Regions from separate parts of the Homo sapiens genome. Here region 2 is linked to region 1. Evidence: fine-mapped expression QTL. Tissue or cell type: whole blood. Region 1 holds a variant in brackets; the other region holds the start of a gene. All regions are shown on one strand. Distances are between the middles of the regions.

Region 1 (2,691 bases):
AATTTGCACCTATGAGTGAGGATATGCGGTGTTTGGTTTTCTGTCCTTGCGATAGTTTGCTCAGAATGATGGTTTCCAGCTTCTAGAACTGGAAAAACCATTTGACCCAGCCATCCCATTACTGGATATATACCCAAAGGATTATAAATCATGCTGCTATAAAGACACATGCACACATATGTTTATTGCGGCACTATTCACAATAGCAAAGACTTGGAACCAACCCAAATGTCCATCCATGATAGACTGGATTAAGAAAATGTGGCACATATACACCATGGGAATACTATGCAGACATAAAAATGTATGAGTTCATGTCCGCTGTAGGGACATGGATGAAGCTGGATATGCCAATTATTATTAAAATAATTTTTGGGTTAAGCTGATTTTTACTTTTCTGAAAGAAAGATCCAAACACAATGCCTATAATAAATCTTAGAAATTGTCTGTCTCCATTGGTGAGATTAGTCAGTATAAACACTAACATATATAAATAAAACCAAACAACAGTTACTCTTTTCCATAATGTTATGCTTTTGTGTTCAATGAAATATTTAATTTAATTACTAAATTTCTAGCATTTCTCTGAAGGATAAAACAAATAAGCAAACAAACAAATTAACAAGAAAAACCCAAAATAACTTCAATGAATTAAAACTGTCTGGTGCTACCTTTCCTATAATTATCGTCACCAAATAAAGTGCCTATTGGACAGAGATGGCTGGTTCACTGCAATCTCCATTGACCCTTTCGCCATCAGTAAAAATGTCCTCTAATGCTTAGCCGGACACATGATCACCAGGAATAAATGCTATATTCCCAATCTTTTCTTAACATAGGGCATGACACATGTGACCAATTTCTGACCTATGTTGTGTAAGGGGAAGTAACGCGTGTAACTTCTGAGAAGCTGACTTACATGCAGGGGGCATGTCCTATCTCTGTGCTTTCTTCCTTCTTGGAAAGGCAGCTCTGATGGCTAGATCTGGGGCAGCCATGGGGCAACATGAGAAGCAGCAGTACTTGGAGGTGCAAAGCAACAAGATAATAGCCATCTGGATTTCTGATGATCATGAAGACATCATATCTGAACTGGGGTGTCTGCATATCCCTGAGAGGCAAAAAATGTCTA[T/C]ATTGTTTCCGTGAGTTCTTAGCCTACACTGCACATACGAGTTATCAGAGAACTTTCAAAATTTATCAAATGCCCAGTTCTATTAAGGTATCTGGAAACTTATTCTTGGCCTATAATTTTCCACTGGGTCAACTATAACCCAGGTTTATCTGTCTTCTATATCCAGAGACTGTACCCTGCTCCTATGCAGTCTTGCTCTCTCCATAGCTTCATATGTGCAGCAGAACTCACCCTCTGCCTTCCATAACCAGGAGTGGGGCGCTACCTTCCCTCACCTGACTCCTGTGCTGCAGAAACTTGCTAAGAAACACGGAGCATATGTTTCAGACTCAGAATAAAATTATTTTTACAGTCACCAAGTTTTAGAGGTTCTGATTTAGTGTATCTGGGTGTGTCCAGGGTACCAGTGTGCTCCCTTCTCACTCAAATGAAAATTACTGGAACATGATGTTATTTGGTATTCAGTTACACAAAGCTGAGTGTAACTGATTGGTTAATAGTAAAAGTTTTGATTTCAGTAAAATAGTTGAATTATTCTAAACCATAACTTTGTAGCTACATGATTTGGGTGAGATGATTTTTTTTTTTTTTTTTGAGAAGGACTCTCGCTCTGTCACCCAGACTAGAGGGCAGTGGTGTGATCTTGGCTCACTGCAACCTCCTCCTCATGGGTTCAAGTGATTCTCCTGCCTCAGCCCCCCGAGTAGCTGGGATTACAGGTGTGCACCACCATGCCGGACCGGTTTTGTACTTTAGTAGAGATGAGGTTTCACCATGTTGGCCAGGCTGGTCTCAAACTCCTGATCTCAGGCGATCCACCTGCTTTGGACCCCCAAAGTGCTGGGATTACATGAGTTAGCCACCACACCCTGCCTGAGATGATGTTTTTGAGCCACAGTATTCCCATCAGTAAACCGGACATACTAATTGTAATTTCAGGTATTTTTGTGACACATATATTATTGAAATTATTATTATTAAATTACTGACTTTAATAATACATTCTTAAATTAGTTATTATTATAATAACATAATTAATATTGAAAGCAGTTTATAAACTTGCGTGGTGCTAGGGGGCACTACAATGTAAAGGAATTTATGTAATAAAAGTAAAGATGCAACGTTTGATTTTATTTTTCATGTTTTGTAATGCAAAAATTAACTGTCCTTTTATTTAAATTACAGCACATGCAAATTAACTTTTAGGTATATAATTATTCTGAATTATTTCAGAAAACTATTATGGTCTCATCACTGGATTAAAAAATGTAATAATATTCTCAGTTTAAAGAAAATGCACAGGTTTTAAATCCTCTGTGATAAGGGCCCATGAACTTGGAGCTGCTGATTTTTTTTTTTTTAATTTGCAGGGTTTTTACATAACAAATTATCAGAAACCAAAGCACCCAGATATCAGACTATGAATAGAAAACATCTTTCCTGAACAAGTACAGGCTTTATTACTTAATTGTATTTACACTGATGAGTGCACACAAAGAAAAATCAATTTGTGGGAGTTTATTTCATTGGTATTGAAATTGTATCTTCCTTGAAAAACT
Region 2 (2,691 bases), 350 kb after region 1:
CTCATAATTTTTAAATGGCTAATTGGTGAAGGCAGAGTTTTCTCATTCACAGAAGCAGAAGGGGGCCCAGTATTTGGTTTGGTTTGATTCTAAAATGGAGGCCAAGAGCCTCGAAATCAAAGGACAGAGTTGAGGTCCGCCCCTTTACTCACCTTTGCAATGAATGCACCTTGGAATCCCAGACGAAGTCCCCAATATGAAGTGGCATTGTTGTCTGGGGTCAATACCCGGGGTTCGTCGTCTCGCACCAACAAGGTTAAGGACACGATACACACGAAGAGTGGGTTTAGGAGCGGAGGTTTAACACGCAAAAGAAAAAGGAGAACAGCTCTCTCCCTTGTGAGAGAGAGCGGCTTCCGAAAGGAAAATCCCAGGTTCGATCGTTTCTTATAATGGCTCACAGAACTCAGAAACTTTACTTATGTTTACTGCTTTATTATAAAGGATACAGATGAACAGGCAGTCGAAGAGGTACACAGGGCAACGTCCAGAAGGGTCCCAGGTGAGCACAGGACCTTTTGTCTTCATGCAGTTTGAGGTGCATCGCCTTCTTGGTATGTGGTTGGGGTTAACCAAACCGAAAGCTCTCCAAACCTGTGGTTTATTTTTTAATGGAGGTGCCATCACTTAGGCATGATTGGTTAAATCACTGGCAACTGGTGGTTAATCAATCTCCAGCCCTTTTACCCTCTCTGGAGGTCGAGGCGTGGGGCTGCAAATCCCAGACCTCTAATCATGCCTTAGTCTTTCAGGGGATAGCCCCCATCCTGAAGTTGTCTAAAGGATCCCAGCCACCAGTTAGCTCACTGTCATACACTCTTATCACTTGGAGATTCCAAAGGTCTTAGAAGCTCTTGTGTCAGGAACCAAGACCAAGTATTCTAATAAAAGATGTTTCTATCACCCCTGTCACTCAGGAAATTACAAGGGTTTCTGGAGATCTGTGCCAGGAACTGGATGAAGATCAAATATATATATTTATTATATCACAATATTGCAGCCTACTACTTGCCAGGCACAATTCTAAGCACTTTACATGTGTCCACTTAATTCCTTTAACAGTCCAAAATCAGCTATTGCTATATCATCTCCATATTACAGATAAGGAAACTCAAGCACATAGGGGTTAAGGTTAACCAGTGATCTGGCTAGTCTGTACTTTTACCTGATGTTGTGCTGCCATACAGACTAGATATATTTTTTTTTTTTTTAGACTGAGTCTTGCTCTGTTGCCAGGCTGGAGTGCAATGGCGTGATCTCAGCTCACTGCAAACCCAGCCTCCTGGGTTCAAGTGATTCTCCTTCCTCAGCCTCCCCAGCAGCTGGGACTACAGGCACATGCCACCTCGCCCAGCTAATTTTTGTATTTTCAGTAGAGACAGGGTTTCACCATGTTGACCAGGATGGTCTCGATCTCTTGACCTCGTGATCCGCCCACTTCGGCCTCACCAAATGCTGGGATTACAGGCGTGAACCACAGCACCCAGCCAAGACTAGATTTTTAAGAAAAGGCAATCCAGATATCCTAGAAGGTTCATTTCCTCTTTTTGGTGGTTTAGCAAATTTCTTAGTAAGGCTTCTAGCTGTTATAGCAGCATTAGTATGTGAACCACAGTTAAGCTCTAGTCCAACAAGGCCATTTCTTCAGCAGAGAAGCAATTGTTAAATAATCGACCAAGTATTCATTGGCTCCCTCTTTTTGTATCAACATACACAATTGTTACAGTGCCAGTGTTTATTGGAACCACTTTCCATGGTGCATCCAGCTGTGCCTAGACCAGCAGGTCTTTTTCCAGAAGTCCAGATGGCAGGGGAACCTCTTCACGTTGTTGACCCTTCTCCCTGTAATTTTTTCCCCAATAAACCTTTTCATTATGTTGCTGTATTTATACCCAAATACACATTACATTTATTTTAGTACCTTGTACATTTTGTTGCCCTTATAAATTGGAGGGGTTTTAAAAACTATTTTTTATTCTCAATATTCATTGATGATGTATAGGACTCCTTCTGGACTGTTTAATATATGACTGTAAATCCCCCTGAATTTTCTTAGATGTTTGTAGTATCTGATTATGACAGTTTTGTCTTTTATTTATTGCCTTGTTGCATTGATTAGGTCCTCTAATATAATGTTGCTTAATAATGAAGATAGATATCCTATCTTATTCTTGACTTTTGGTATAAATTCTTCTAAAGTTTGAGCATTAAACATGATGTTTGATGTAGATTCTTAGTGGATACTCTTTAGCAGTTAAAGTAACTTCTCTTTTACTTCCAGTGACACTACTACCTAATTTGAAGAGAGGATTTGGAATTTTGAGTTTCAAAATAATACTGTTTTCAAACACTTTTTTAGCTAAAAAGTACACACACATAGGGCAGTGTTTTAAAGTTTAGCTACTTCAGGGCATATGTGTATACTCACTGAAGTTTTAATTTAATGGCTTATTGGTCATTCATGTATCTTCTTTGGTAAGGTAATTAAATATTTTTCTTTTTTTTTAAAAGACAGAGTCTCGCTCTGCCGCCCAGGCTGGAGTGCAGTGGCACAATCTCAGCTCACTGCAACCTCCGCCTCCTGGGTTCAAGCGATTCCCCTGCCTCAGCCTCCCGAGTAGCTGGGATTACAGGCGCCCACCACCACGCCCAGCTAATTTTTGTATTTTTAGTAGAGACAGGGTTTCACCA

The links. PIP is the estimated chance that this variant, and not a neighbour inherited with it, causes the effect.
Region 2: it holds the start of NAIP, and the variant in region 1 is fine-mapped to the expression of NAIP in whole blood (INTERVAL, PIP above 0.99).

What each region holds. Positions count from the first base shown.
Region 1 is chr5:70,676,439-70,679,129 of GRCh38, forward strand. The region is part of intron 3 of LOC107986355 (a long non-coding RNA gene); the gene reads right to left. Among named protein-coding and RNA genes, the nearest start is that of SERF1A, 220 kb to the right of the region's middle. The variant T/C (reference allele first, on the strand shown) is at 1,133.
Region 2 is chr5:71,024,166-71,026,856 of GRCh38, forward strand. NAIP (NLR family apoptosis inhibitory protein) reads right to left here and starts at 1,174. Exons shown (of 17, transcript NM_004536.3): 1 at 450-1,174; 2 at 153-241. RefSeq lists promoters at 1-1,533, 938-1,302 and cis regulatory regions at 724-937, 1,303-2,691.